Regions from separate parts of the Homo sapiens genome. Here region 2 is linked to region 1. A link means that fine-mapping ties the variant in region 1 to the expression of a gene that starts in the linked region. Tissue or cell type: pancreas. Region 1 holds a variant in brackets; the other region holds the start of a gene. All regions are shown on one strand. Distances are between the middles of the regions.

Region 1 (8,111 bases):
TTGCAGGAGTAACATTATGCCAGCACTGAGCCTTGAACTCAAAAGGTCTTCAACTCCCATTCTTTCTCTTGGGATTCTCCCTTTACCATGTGAATAAGTCAGAGCTAGTCTTGAGGAGGAGAAGAGACCACAGGGACCAGAGGCTCATAAGCACAGTTGCCCCAAATGAGGCAGAGAGAGATGAGAGAATCCAACAGCAAAGGCCAGGAAAATCAGACCTATGAAAAATCGCAACTGAGACCAGAAGAGCTACCCCGCTGAGTCCAGCCTGTGCACAGAATCATGAGCCAAAGAGTTGTTTGGGGATGGTTTGTCTCTCTGCAAGAGATAATGGAGACAACCACAAATGTTAAAGAATAACACATTGGCTAATACCAATGATTGTTAATATGAAGTTAATTCTTCCTCAGTGTCTAGGAAGATTTGCAAAATTGTCGCAGAGTTTGACACAGCATATTCACAGCATGCATTTAATTCTATGGAGCCCAAGTATATTTTAAATAGCATAACTGAAATCACATGGTATTTAAGCAACCTATCTAAAACTTTCTAAAATTGTTTTTTTTAAAAACTCTATTTACAAAAGTGCCTTCCTTGTGAAAACATTAAATCAAGGTAAAATTCCAAGATTACTATTAATCAAAATGTGTTTATAGTTAACAGCAGTCACAAACATGCAATGTTTTAAACAGTTTAATTTTTCTGGGTACAGAGTAAATGTATATATTTATGAGGTATATGGGATATATTGATACAGGCATACAAAATATAATAATTACATTGGGATAAATGAGGTATCCATCACCTCACGCATTTATCCTTTGTGTTACAAGCAATCCAATTATACTCTTTAAAATGTACAAGTAAATCAGTATTGACTATAGTCACCCTATTGTGCTATCAGATAATAGATCTTATTCCTTCTTTCAAAATATTTTTTGTGCCCATTTAATCATCCCCTCTCCCCTTGCCCTACATTTCCCAAACCCTGGTAATCATCATTCTACTTTCTATCTCTGAGTTAATTGTTTTAATTTTTAGCTCTCACAAATAAGTGAGAAGATGAAAAGTCTGTCTTTCTGTGCCTGACTGATTTCCTTTAGCATAATGACCTCCAGTTCCATCCATAGTGTTGCAAATGACAGGGTCTCATTCTTTTATGGCTGAATAGTACTCCATTGTGTATATGTTCCACTTTTTTTTTTTTTATCCATTCGCCTGTTGATGGACACTTGGGTTGCTTCCAAGTCTTGGCTGTTGTGAATACTGTTGCAATAAATATGGGAGTGCAGATATTTCTTTTATAAAACTTTTCTTTAAGACCAATTTACTTTCTGTCTTACCTCTTGACAAAAGGCTTTTTCATCCCTATGTGGCTAAGCAATTTAAGGAAGCATTTTGTAATGAAAGGAAAGGAACATTCCCAAAAATCCATAGACTGAAGGACCTGGCCTGACTGCAAGCAAAGTTCTAGAGCAAATGAGGGGGATTCTTTTTAAGATGGTTTGGGTAAATATCGTCTTTTCTTGTTTCATGAATATGGAGAACACTGAGAACAACATTTGAAGATAATGAGGTCCTACCACCAAACTGTGTGATCCTCAAAACTAGAATCCCTCTCTCCACCAAGGAGCCACATCCCACATACCAGCTGAGGCCTCTAGATGTGGTCAATTTACAGGGATTATCTATAGTTAATCTAGGTTAGCAGGAATAAGCCTACGGTAAAGAATCCATGGCATCCGTAGTGGGCATTAGTGAAGCTCAGCTGCGTAGCTCTTTCGGTCTCAGCTGGGATATTTCACGGGTCCACCACTGTCACTTACGATGCCCAAATTAACTACAGATATTGCCATTAATGAGTCTGAGAATATTAATCTATTTTTCAGTTACAGTGACTTCACCTTTGAAAGGATATTGGGTATCAAATCAAACAGGAAGAAGGTTATAGACAAGGAAAATCTGGACATGAATATTTTAGCAGTTCATTAAAATTAGATCACAAGGCCATTCACTTTGTGTCAACTGGCATTGGCAGATGGTACTCATCTTTATCTCAATGAGTATTAGAAATAATTTTCTCTAGGACTGGAGACACTGGTCATATGATGGAGAAGGTGAGAAAGAGATAGCTTTTGTAGTCTTCTACAGCATACCTTTTATGTGGATGTCAGGAACTATTTCATTTGCCTAAATGGCTCTTTGCCTCAAATTGTGTATAGGACTTAGTATTCTGAATGTGCTACTTCCTATTTTTGTCCAGATATTGTGAGATGGTGATGACAAACTACAAGATGAATGACTAACTTGGCTCTATATGGCTGCTTTAATGGACAAGATTATACATGAAATACTAAGAGAATAAATTTTACTTCTTTTTGGGATAGTCAGTTTCTAAAGAAAATATTAATATTCATTTAACTTTAGTACCTGAAGTAACCTTTTATTTATATTATTAAGTGGTATCCTAAATATTTAATTTTCATATAAAACATGGGTTACACAGAAAATCACCTTGGCTTATTAATCTTTTTGTCCATGTTTTTAAATGTCTCTTCTTACCTAACATTAAGAAGTCTCCTTTTCAATCAGTCCAAAGTAATCTCGTCCTGTTTTCAGAGTCTTTGTATTCTCTGAAATACTGAAAAGGCATTATCCTCCCTGCAACCCTAAAAGGAATCTCCCTTCCTTGTGCCATTTAAGTACTTAGTTTGACCCTCGGAAACCTCTCTAAGTAAATGGTGAAGACTTGTTCTACATTAGCTGATTGCTAGTGTAAATTTTCCAAAAGATTTAGTACAAGAGTTTTCAGAGTTGCTTCAAATTTTCTGTAGACTGCTTAAACCTGGGTGTGTGCATGTATGTGTGTGTGCAGGCGCATGTGAGGGAGTGGTGTATATGTTATGATAAAGGTAGCATTTCACATCAGGAAATAAATATTAATCATTTAAAAACATTCAAATGTTCTCACAACAACTAGTCAATTATTTGGAAAGAGTTAAAATATTCTTAGACGACATCTCACATAACAAATGAATTACTGAAGAGCTAAAGAGGTATACTCAAACTGAATATATTGAAAACAAAGCAAAACAAAAATAAACAATTTTTCTAATGACAGAATAGAAAAATGGCCTTTTTAAGTGGACTTTTAAAATCAGTGATAAAATTAAGCATGGATAGACTTACTATTTAGATACTAAATATATCAGTGTCAAAATTCTGATAAAATCAAAAAGAGACAAGCTTAAG[A/G]TGTGGTGATCAGCTCACATACTGGAAAATATATATATGCCAGAAGAATGGCTAATATTCTTAATTCACACAGATATTATAATGTAATTTATAATGTAAGAATGAAATAAATTGAAAAGCAATGTAATTTTAACATATATAACGATCAGCTGTACTATTAATTACAGAAATACAAATGTAAGCAATGTTTTTTGAAATTAGAAATTGTTTATATCAGTATTAGGTTTTGTTGTACTTTTAAACTATAAGCTATCATTTTTATTCCTTGCTGGCCAATATGTACATTGAGCCAAATTTTCTGGAAAACAATTTCACAAGGAAGGTTCAGTACCTAAAGGTAATTTTGCCCTTTGATTAGTTCTAGGAATTTATGCAGAGAATGCAATTAGAAGTTAGCCAAATTTCTGGGTGTGGTAGCTCATGCCTATAATCCCAGCACTTTGGGAGGCTGAGGAGGGCAGATAAGTAATCTGGAGTGTGAGCCCAGGAGTTTGAGAACAGGCTGAGATACACAGTGAAACCCTGTTTCTACAGAAAAAATACAAAAATGATCCGGGTATGGTGGCACATACCTGTAGTCCCAACTACTCGGGAGACTGAGGCAGGAGGATCACTTGAGCCTGAGAGGTGGAGGCTACAGTGAGCCATGGTTATACAACTGCATTCCAACCTGAGAGAGAGAGAGAGAGGGAGACCCTCTCAAAAAAAAAACAGAAAAAAAAAAAAGCAAGAAGTTAGCCCAAATAATTCTGTTTAAGAATGTTTCTCACATTGTAATTTGTGGTGGGGGAGGACCACTTCCAGAGTCAAGAGTAAATGATAACATTTAAAATAGTAATTCGTAATGCCCTCAGACAAGGCAGTACTATGTTGAAAATCTCTAAACTATTTAAGGATAATAGGACATGATCACAGTGTATAATTATATAATAAAGTGGCTGTAAAAAAATGTGCAGTATAATGCCAATTCTATAAAAATATCTAGCTGGTTTTCATGGGGAAAATATTTAGAATGATATACAAGAGATGTTTATAGTTTTTAACACCGGGTGGTAAAATTCAAAGGACATAAAACTTAAGTATTCATAGATTTAAGCCATAAATATTATAATATCATTACCTTTTTACAATCTCATACAGCTAATAAATGACTGAGCCAGGATTTAAAATAAGATAGTCTTGTTTTCCAAACAGTTTTTCCATTTTGTTACACTGGCATGACAATAGCCATTCAGGACTTCACCTTTTTTAGCCCAATAACCATGGTAAGAAGCATTTCAGTTTCTTTGTCCTAATATGCACTGATCACTTTTGCACCAGAAGCTGTGGTAAGCACTTTATATACATTATCTAATTTAAGTTTCACAATAATTCAATGACATTAGGTAGTAATACTCTCATTTTGACAAACAAGAAAATAAGGAATTAACAGAAACGTTTATTGCCCAAGTCTGTAAGCTAGGTGGAACCAGAGCTGCACTGTGGTGTGTCTCTTTAACTGTAGACTCGGCTTTTCTGTGTCCAGTTCAATCTCTGAGATATACTCTCAGATTTATCTCTTTCCAAAACCCTGAAACATTACTCTGAAGTAAGGCAGCTCTAAATTGTGTGGCTAATTTACAACCTCCTGTAACTAGATTGACCTGTTTGTAATTTATTCTTGTATCAACAAACCCCTAAGTAAAAATAGATAATTTGTTACAAATATAATATCACTAAACCTCAACAAAAGTAGTCAAATAATAGAAAGTTTCTATTCCTTAGGATCAAATAATAATAAGTAGACTAAATATTTTCAACTGAATCTATTACAGTATGGGAACTCCCCTTACCAATCAAAATATGAAATAAGCAGCAACACCACCACCATCACAAAACAAATAAAACTGCACAAAAGCTCCTACAGCTGCCAACAGTTGTGTGTAGAGCTGCAATATGTCTATAGCAGAGGGCTAGGAAGTCATGACATGAGACGATTTACCTGAGAGAATGAAATTAGGTGAGAGATGGATTTGTTGGGGTAGATGCCTTTAGTTCCCAGAAAGACTATAAGGGGAAAAAAATGTGCCTATTTAGGAAGTCGTATTTCATATATGATACAAAGAAACAAAAAATAAGTCAAAGGTGTTTTCTCTCCCCTGACACTAATGTCTCAGTAATTAAACACATAGAGGTTTCTCGAATCACCAATTTGTTTTTCCCATGAGTACTTAAGAATTTATTTTGGAAGATATATCTCCTAAGCCTCCCTGAAGGATGTTAGCTCTAAAATGAGAGCTGCAATAACTTCTCTGCAAAAAAAGTATACATAGTTTGATGGGATGTGAAAGTAAATTCAATAAATTAATGTATGGGCATTCCAGTTAAATGGTGCAGATAATGGTTCTACTTGATATTTAAACATTCAATCAATCACAGGCTCAAATCAAATAGTTCTCTAGTTGTTCAGACATGAAAGCAGCCAGAGAAGACAGATCAGAAACCGTGTTATTTGAGCATACTGAAAGTCAAATCTACCTCCTTAATCTGTCACCTCCAAGCCCTCCAGGCTGTGAACACTGGATTGGAAGTTTCAATATTAATAATAATAATGTTAAATGATTACAACAGCTAACATTTACCAGGGATCTTAACAGGGATTTTAATGACTTCTACTTTTCTATCATCACAACTCTAAAATGTAAGGTCTATTTTTACCCCCATTTCATAGGTGAGGAAATGAAGGCTTAGATGGCTACGTAACTTTCCTGTTATCACACAGCTGGTAAGGAGGAGGCAGGAATTATATACAGGGACCATGCTGTCAAGCACTGTGCTACACTGCACGTAATGGAGGTGTGTGCAAGGGACTATAGAAACCATGAGACAAGTGAATTGGGTAGTTAGGGGTCATGTTCACATTACTGGAAAATTATGTTTATTAGGCAGCATGAATATTGTGGGTTTTTTCAATGTTTTATACTTAAGAAAATATAATAAAATTGAGGCTCCTGTGCTTAGTTAGATCCTGATAAATTTTAAAACACTTGTCCCTAGCTTGCGGCTTATAGCCCTTCATCTCCCCATGTCATCTTTCTCCATGTATTTCCGCACACAGCCTTCTTAACCTCACCAGTCAATCAAAATATGAATATTTTGAGGAATTATCACTGTAGAGAAGAAAATACCTACAGAATAAAGCACTGTTGTGTTTACTGAATAGTTTCTGACACTTCTGTTTTAAAAAACTAATTCTTGTTTTGTTTGTGGTGGTTGACTTCTTGCATGATGCAAACCAGGATTCCAGATGAGGGTTTCAGTCACGGAAACCCATTTGCTTTCATTAATCCCTTCATGCCACAGACAATTTAAACCTACATATTAGAGTAATATACCATTTGTTCTTTAACTGTTTCAAACATTGTGTGAAGTTATTTTTTCTATTTCTTGAACCTGCTAGAAAATCAATTTTAAAGCATGCTTATTAACTCAAGACCATATACATTAAGTGGTTACTTCTTAGGTTCAGTGTCTTGTCAGTTCCAATTACAAGCTGCCCTACAGAGGCATTTTTAAAACAGAAATAAATGTAATCCTCTGTTGCATCTCTTATGTGGATGTTAAGTAAATGAGGACAAAAGCATTCAATTTTATTTGCTTGTTTACCTTTAGGTGACAGTTAATTCCTGTGCTCTCAGATTACAATCATATCATTATGTGCAGCTCAGAGACAATACAATGCAATGTCAAGTTGAACACAGGCAGGATTTTTCAGAAACCACAAAGCTTTCCATTATACCTTTCTCCAGTGAACAAGAAAATGAGGCAATTTCCTTTAAAACCAGAAAAAAAAATTACAGGAATTCCTGGTGAACTCCACTCCGCTATCAAAAAAGTGTTACCTAGTTCACCGTTTAAAAAGTTAGTATTTTCCAGACCACTATTATCAAACTGAAACACACCTCCCACCTCCCATGTTAATCTGCCCAGCTCAAATGGCACATACAATAGATTATTAATAATTGACAGTAAAATCATAAAAATGTCACTGACGTTATATGATTAAATGTCACTTAGGTGACTCATGCATAGACATTAACCAATGACACATGAAAGCAGCCCCCTATTCCACCCTATAACCAACTCCTAAAATGAAATTAATAAAAAATACAGATGTTCTTATAAAGAGATGAGTTATCTTTAAAAAAAAATGATTATTCAAACTCTGGCATTTAGAGAGTAGGCTAAAAACCCTCCAGTCAAATGCTTTGTGTAGCACTCAGTATGTAACATTCTAGTTAATGGAAAAAGCAGGCGGTGAAAGGGAGAACTTTCAGTTGTCACACTGAAGAGTGCTTTAAAGAAGATTGTCATTTGAGACTGTTGTCAGCAATGAAGGATTCCAAATGCAGCTGAACTCAGAATTCTGACTGTGGTATGTTTAAAAGTGCATCAATCTAGGAATTCTATACTATTTTTCTATTTTCTTAAACATATGTAGAGAAGCCAATTGAGAGAAATTAATATTGATTTCAGAATTGGAATTGAGTGTATCTGTTATTTCAAAATACTAGATATATATTTTAAAGTAAAGTATGATCTAAATGTGTTATTTTTAAAATATCTGTGTTTATCTTGCATGTAAACCAAATATCACCTCTGAAGTTTTGTCTTTTTGAATGTATTTATTGATTTCATTGAAATAATTACAGCATCTACTCTAAAATGGTTTTTTATTCAAAAACATAAAATATATTTACCTTTAAAATATTTTCAATTTTTCTTAATAATTTTATACAATATTTTTAACTGGTTTTCATCAAAATAGAAAGTCAGAAAAACATCTGAACTTAAAGGAGCATATCTCATAGTGTTAAATG
Region 2 (8,111 bases), 140 kb before region 1:
TATTACTAGATTACTTTCACAAATAATAAAGAGTAGTTGAGGATTATGGAAAGCCATTCATTCAGCAAATATTTATTTGCTCAGCTTTTATGTGTCAATCATCTTTTCGGCACCATGACAAATAGAAAAGTGAGTCAACCTGAAGTCTATTTTAAAGGATTTCTTCTTGACTGGTAGAAAAGTATGCGCCTACTTTCAAAAGCATACATGTATAATGCATGGTAGAAACATTATGAAAATGCCATTAAGTGATGTTATTCATGCTCGATGGAAATTGGAGAAGGCTAAATCTACATCTAACTGGCTTTGTACTCAGTAGATGTAGATGTGGATAAAATATATCTTCATACAAGAAATGTCATTGCTCCCTGAAGGAGTTTTAGGACAATCATTCCCAGTGGAGAAAACAGCAGCAGCAGCAGCAAAAGCAGACCAATAAGGAAGAAAGCAATATAGGATTAAAAGAGTTTGTAAAAGGGTCTTTGAAACAATATTGGAAAGTGCTGCAAGAAAATATGGAGCCCCTTGAATGGTAAAGCAGTGAACATGGACTTGATGATTTTTGTTTAAATAAATTAAATTGTCTATTTTTAATAACATTATTGAAGTATGATTGATATACAAAGAACTGCACATACTTAATGTACGATGAGTTTGAACATATGCAAACACCTGTCATGCAATCACTACAATCAAGGCAACAAACATATCCACAGGATGTATGGGACAAGGTAGCTGATGACAGATTAAACAACATGGATTTAATCCTATAGGCAACTTGAAATAATTATTCAGATTTTCAGCAGGGTTCTAAGATATGAACTGCTGTTTAACCCATCATCACCTCCTTTGTCCCACACATCTCCCTTCTCTTGATGCTGTCTTCTTACACAAATCATTTTGTGTTCCTGTCTCTTCAAAATGCCATGTGCTCCAAGCACTTGAGAATTAATTTTTTTAAAATTCTGTTTTGTAAGACTTCTTAAGGCTGGACTCAGAGAAGGTTGAGGCTGCTGATTTTCCTCCATGACTTTATCTTAGACACACCCATCAGTAGTACTACTTCTGAATGCTACTCGGAGCATATAGCCTGGATATCATCAGGATGAATCTACTTAATTCTGCTGTTATACTGTCACATGTGGCCAGAAACCATAGGCTTTTAGGGAGAAAATTGTTAAATTTCACTCCATTTTTCCTTTTATGATAGTATATGACTTTTTTACAGAGCTGGTTTTTGTCTTTAATATACGGAGAGAAACTAGAAGCAGGAAAGTACTGCTTTTCCATTTCTGTTACCATTTAGGCAATGAGAAGTATCATTCACAATTCCAATTTTAATTAAGGCAGTGATTCATGACCCAAAGAGGCAGAAACAGGACTCTCTCAGTCCCTTTGACAGAGCACAATACAGAGAAACTCACAACTGGCTGAGCTGAGGGACCTATTTCGAAATTCAAAGGAATAAAAAGTCTCCCAGTGATGTAAACATCAGAGTTTCTTACCTCTCTGGGGAGCAAATGTTAGCAGGGGGGCTGCAAAGTTAATTACTTAAGGAGGACAGGAGACAGGTTGTGAGTTGTGGGGAGCAAGAGCAGCAGAAACATGAAGGGGAACGAAACCCTAGGTCCAAAGAGAAAAAAGAGAAAAATTGAAGTTGTAGCAAGACAGGTATATGGGTAGGGGGGTTGAAGATCTATGCATGTAATAAGGATAAAATCAACACATATCATTGATAAAGTATGAAAATGATAAAAATATATGAAAGTATAAAAAATATTACCCTTTACTCAACTTGCAAGCATGATTACTCCAGACATTTTCGCATGTTTATTTCTAGGCTTTTTTTTTCTACTTTGGAAAACAGAGTCAAGACTGTACTGTGTATTATACATTAATCATGCCCCCTCACTAAACATTATATAAAATACACATTTTGCATGTCATTAAAATTTGGAGAAAAATGTTTGAAGCTAAAAATAGTAGGAAAAAGCAACCCAACATAGTTCATAGTTAGCTTAGCTTTCCTTAATGAGGCTACTTGCTATCCATTCTTAAACTGTCCACAATGGAAATGTCAGTCCATCAAAATGCTTCCTTTTACCCCAACACAGAATTTTTATTTTGAGTTAAAAAAGAGGGCTTTTGCTCAAACTCTTCTTTCTACACTTCCAAAACGTACTTTCTTTCTTTACACACACACACACACACACACACACACACACAGAGAGAGAGAGAGAGAGAGGAATCTTTTTCTCTTTGCACTGCCTTTCTATAAAGCAGATGGTGCTTCAAATTTCCTCGGCCCCTCACAAAGCTGTTCCTCTAGCAACCTCCCCTAAAAGACTGATTTTAAAACAAGCAAAGATGTTCTTTGAATCCCCTGCTAGTCAATCTGGCAGTCCAACCTAAAATGTTTCTAATTTTAAGAAAAGTAATTAACTTTATGACAAGATAGTTTAATCATAGCTGCACCAAGGAGGTTAGGGTGCAAGGGTGTTAGAAATAATAACAAACATTCTTTCCTTGGAAAAAAATCCAATGAGGTTCAAAATCTCAACTCATTTCTAGTTCTGGCAGATACATATTTGCCTCCTGCTGGGTTTTGGATCAGGGAGTAGGTTGGAGAAAATCAGGGATCAACAGAAAAAGATCTTAGGAAGGTAAAGGTGATACCTGTGCCTAGAAATGTGGAATAGAGGGACTTAAATTTTTTTTTTTTTTTTTTGAGACGGAGTCTCGCTCTGTTTCCCAGGCTGGAGTGCGGTGGTGCGATCTAGGCTCACCGCAAGCTCCGCCTCCCGGGTTCAAGCCATTCTCCTGCCTCAGCCTCCTGAGTAGCTGGGACTACAGGCGCCCGCCACCGCCCGGCGAGGGGACTTTAATTCTTTTAACTAGTCCTGCTGACCAGGGATTGAATTAAAGTTTAAATTTCAAAAATATTTCTGATTCTAAAACCGGTGATTTAAAAGGGGGTTTTAAACATTTAAATGAGATCTACAGGGGTCATAACTGACTAGTAAGTATTGGGTGTTAGTTTTCTGCCATTCTTAAATTCATTGTCTAATCCTCACGTAGGAGAATTGGGTTGCATTAGAATCAATGAGTTGGTTCACATCAGAATGATCTGTAAGCTGAGTTCTATCAGAATTTTAACTCTGGATGAACAAAATTTAAAAAAAACATCCTCGAGCAAGTCATTTATTCTTCTCGGTTTCAATGCCCTCATCTATACAATATCTGTATTAAAAGCCCTTACGGAGACAGTCTCTGAACTGTGTTTTAGATCTTCATTTGGAGGTGAACTCACACTGAGTTCATTGTCTGTAACCAAGTATTTCTTCAATGCCTGCATACTGAGCTCTTATTGAATGCTCAGCATTTCTTTCTGGAAAGACCATTATGATACATTAAAGAAGGTAGCACATTGTTTGCTCTTCCTCCCACTGAGAGTAGAATCCAATTTCGCTTTTTGCTTCAGATGACTTTAAGACCAGTTACTGAACAATCAAGAGAGACTCTGAGAGATAACTGCCTGTCTGAATCTAGCCCACCTGCAAAATCCATAAGTAATAATAATAAATTTTAGTTTACAGCTTAGTTTCAGGGTAGTTTGTTATGCATCCATAAATAATTGGAGCATCTGTTTGTTCAAAGCTATATTCCCCTCATTCTTTTGTATCATGCACCACAGATGAATCAAACAGCATACAATAATAACTCAATATTTTTGAGGTATCGAAAGTTTGGAAATTTCTGCATATTTTTTATCTGCTTTTATTTGGATTATTCACCTGATTCTGAGTTGATTCCATAAAACTTCAAAACTGAGGAAGCAACGGACTCTCACGATGTGTCTGTTCAATAACATCTTACATCTTCCAGGAAGAACTTAGGGCTTTGAATCAGGGAGCAGAGATAGATGGAGGAAAGGAGATCCTACTGAAAAATGTGTTCAGCTAGCTTCTGGTCCTATTTTGGCCACTGCAGTTTGGTCTTTCAAAAGTTACTTCAAAGTGGGAGCTGAATGATGAGAACACACGGACACAATGGGGGAACAACACACACTGGGGCCTGTTGGAGGGGGAGGGAGAGCATTAGGAACAATAGCTAATGGCTGCTGGGCTCAATACCCGGGTGATGGGGTGATCTGTGCAGCAAACCACCATGGCATACGTTTACCTATGTAACAAACCTGCGCATCCTGCACATGTACCACGAACTTAAAATACATGGTGAAGATATAAATAAATAATAAAATAAAACTTCTCAAACTAAACAAAAAGAGTTACTTCACTTCTTTGGGTATCGGGTGCCTTCTCTTTCAAATAAGGTGTTGATTTATGTGGTCTTGAGAAATCTTTGTTGCTCTGATCTTAAGTTTCTTTTTATAATATTAGAATCATAGTTTACCTACATTACAGGGCTTTTATGAAGATTAAATCGAGCATCGTGGGTAGTGTTTTTTCAGCCCCTGTGACTAAGTAGGTTATAAATGGTCCTCAGTCATCATCATCATAAATGATTCAAGGCCTGAATGGCAGAAGAAGAAGAGGAAAACTCAAGTGAAAAGTGCTAGACATAGAACACAGCTTACCTAATAAAACATGCTACTGGCTAACTAAGCTGGGGTGGCTTTCTGCCCCCTCTACTTAAATTTAAGAAAGAAAAACAGAAACGTCTCTGCATCTGCCACTGCATACCCTCTCAGAGCACAGACCAACTTTGCCCTTCCTTAAAAGTCCCAGGGTTTACCTACCAACTTTTAGGAAATAAATAACCAGCCTCAAAGCTTGGCAAAGAGGGCATCAGTATCAGCTCTAGAGGTTTGCTCCGATTTATATCTCCTCCTCCAGTAAAGTCTTCTGCTCCCACTCCCAGCCAACCCCGCTCAACGCCCACCCCTCACTGTGGCACTGGACGCGCGGGGGATGCGGGGTTGTTCCCAGAGTAGCCGCTAAGGGGAGCCGGACGCTAGACCGCCCTCCCGCGTTCCCATGACAACGACACCGGCGGGCGCGTAGCCTGGAGAGCGAAGTGCCGGCTACAGCAGGTGTCGGATTGCAGTGCGCTCGCTGAGGCTCCGGACCTTGGAGCGTCTAGAGTCTGGCTACTGTTCCTCCGCCTCCCTCTCGGGCAGCTCCCTAAGCCGGCTGGGACGCGCAGAGTGAAAATGGTCCACCATTCAGGCTCCATTCAGTCCTTTAAACAGCAAAAAGGTCAGTTGGAATCTTGCTCCCCTCTCCCTGCGGGCGTCACTTCCCCCCTGCATGCCCTTGCAGTTGTGTAGGAGCATCCTTTGCAGGCTTATGCGACACAGAGGTGGGGAACTCTGTGAAGTTAAAAAAAAAAAAAAAATTAAATTCCTCTTCACTCTGCATCCTAGATGAGTGATTTTCTGAGCCTCCGCACAGTGCCTGGGAGTATCGGAATTCGTCATTTCAGGACTTGACTTAATGTATATCTCTGTGAAGACTGTTTCAATGCACTGCAGTAAACCCGCTTAGTAGGGATTGTCCGAATAGCTCAGTAGAGCTCTGAGGGGTGAGGACAGAAATGTTCAACAATATCTGCCGTCTTCTGTGGTTCAAATGTTGAGTAATCTTCACAAAAGTGTGTCTACTCCTTGAGACGCATTTACACAATCATAAGATAAATGAATTCTTGGGGGAGTTCCAGAGTTGGCCTGTTGCAGTTAAAGGGGCTCTGTCACTTCCTTGGGAAAATTTATTGTTTGCCCATGTCCCATGCTTGATTCTGGGTTTCAAGTTCTTGAGGTTAGGTTTCTCTTCTAGGGGCTTCGTATTATGTCTTTTAGTTTCTCCCTCAAGTTTCTTGCTGGGCATAGTGACAAGAATCTGTATGTTCAAGTTATCCTCACTCTTTGATCTTTGTTTCTTATTTGGTTTAAAAGGCTTTTTACAGAGCATTTTTATTTTGAGGCACATTCACAGTTTTTGGAGTTTTATTATCCAGAAGCATTAATTAACACAATTGCCACTTTGCTGAATTAATAATGGTAATTATGATACAGTTAACCATAGAGTGCCTTAGATGTGTGAATTCTGGAATGCTGAATTTGTTCATTCAAAGTAAATATTTACTTAAATATTCTCATCCCCACCCTCCAGATATTATTTGTATTTCTTTCATCAACAGTTGTTTTTATGTAGCTCTTTGACTTTTTTTTTTTTTTTGAGGTGGAGTCTCGCTCTGTTGCCCAGGCTGGAGTGCAGTGGCGCGATCTCGGCTCACTGCAAGCTCTGCATCCCAGGTTCATGCCATTATCCTGCCTCAGCCTCCTGAGTAGCTGGGACTACAGGCGCCCGCCACCAAGCCCAGCTAATTTTTTTGTGTTTTTAGTAGAGACGGGGTTTCACCGTATTAGCCAGGATGGCCTCCATCTCCTGACCTCGTGATCCGCCCGCCTTAGCCTCCCAAAGTGCTGGGATTACAGGTGTGAGCCACTGTACCCGGCCCTTGACTTTTTTGTTTGTTTTTAACAAAAACTAGATTAACACACAAGAAACAATTTCGAAGGGATTCCTGCGTAAGACAGAATATGGGACTGACTGAGTTTCCAGTTCCATAATTCTGTACTCAGTTCAAGCCCAAGTTCTCTAGGATGTTTCAAATATATGTTGAAATTGGGAGTGATGTGTGAGACTGTAGGGGTAGACAAAAATTTCACCTAGTATGCACTTCTACTTCAACTCTAAACATTTCAAATAAAGTTAAACTGCTTCAAGAAGTTGTGTTCTCTTTAATCATGGTTTTAAACATACATAAACTTTCAGAATGAAGACAAAGATGATAGGAACTTTGCAACAGCCTCACAGAATAAATACCTCCACTGATGCATTGGCTATGGGTGACTCATTTCTGGGATCTGGAAGCTTCAAATGGCCCCCACAACAATGTATTATGTATGGATACATGTTGTGTTTTTAAGAAGGAAATAATTGACAACTGTAGGTCCGACCGTCATTGCTCAAAGAGAGTGATAAGAAATTGTGCAATTGCTGGCATTTCACATTGTTTCCTTTATGATGCATTATGAGCCATTTAATTTCAAGTCTTCCTTTACTCTTTGGCACAAAAGGCAACTTCAGCAAAAGGATACAAATCTAGAGGAGGAGTACTCCGGTAGGAAGGAAGCAAGATTCATTTTAGCTAAGTGGTTCTGGTTAATGGCTTCTTAATCCTGCATGGGCATTAGGAAAAAAACAGACCAAATTGAGGATTAGCTATTTTTATTCTTCAAATAGGAAGAAGCAAAATAATTCTCTAGATGTGATCTGTCCTAGGAGGTATGCAACAACAACAACAAAACATTCAGATGTGCTTTTCACCATAAAATTAACCTGAAAATTGCACATTAAAATGGAGAAAATTCTGTAGTGGAACTCTGTACTCCTAGGTTCTAAGCTTGCGTTTGTTACTAGCTGAGAAATCTTCAACAAAGTGGTTAATTTCTTTGGACTTTGCTTCATACATAACATGAACAGAATACATTCCTAATCCCTTTGGCCTTTTCTGTCTCTCTTCCTCTGTTTAATGGGAGGGACGGTTTGCATATGAAGGCAGAGATGATTTCTTCTGTGACCAGATAAAGAGGAGAGCCTTGCTTTTAGTTTACTTTTACGAATTAATTTAGCTGAAAAATCCAGTTGATGGAATTTACTTTTGTTTTATTCAAGTGAGCTCAATGTCTCTTTTAAAAATTTTGATTTCAACTTGAAAATATCTAGAAATAGCCTGATATAACTAGAAATCACCCTTGTTATATTATTTTTAAAGTTTCCACCCTTAATTGAAAAACAGACACACTCAATATTTAAACTCTACACAAGGCATAGGGATTCTCCTTTATATATGAGAACTATGTATTAACCAATCCCCGATCAAAATTGGTTTTGATAGGTAAGTATAAGTATAGTATAGATAAGTATAGATGCCAGACTGGTTATCTGGGAAATGAAATACTGTATGTAAGCCCTAATTTATTAATTTAATCTCTGGTCTTTATTTTGAGCCCTGGATATTAATCCAATATATTCTACTTACAGGTTATGTCATTTAATATCACTAAGCCACAGTAACTGCTTATG

Which allele goes with the higher level. Alleles are on the strand shown, and positions count from the first base shown. SD is a standard deviation of normalised expression in the study named.
For the expression in pancreas of the gene that starts at base 5,028 in region 2, A is the low allele of the variant in region 1 and G is the other (large effect, 1.0 SD a copy in GTEx).

What was found. PIP is the estimated chance that this variant, and not a neighbour inherited with it, causes the effect.
Region 2: it holds the start of ANO3, and the variant in region 1 is fine-mapped to the expression of ANO3 in pancreas (GTEx, PIP above 0.99).

Annotation. Positions count from the first base shown.
Region 1 is chr11:26,466,463-26,474,573 of GRCh38, forward strand. The region is part of intron 4 of ANO3 (anoctamin 3); the gene reads left to right. Among named protein-coding and RNA genes, the nearest start is that of MUC15, 100 kb to the right of the region's middle. The variant A/G (reference allele first, on the strand shown) is at 3,253.
Region 2 is chr11:26,327,103-26,335,213 of GRCh38, forward strand. It overlaps ANO3 (anoctamin 3), which reads left to right and starts at 5,028. Exons shown (of 27, transcript NM_031418.4): 1 at 5,028-5,219. The coding sequence starts at 5,174. It overlaps LOC105376598 (a long non-coding RNA gene), which reads right to left and starts at 4,872. Exons shown (of 3, transcript XR_931138.3): 1 at 4,760-4,872; 2 at 4,418-4,533; 3 at 1,151-1,623.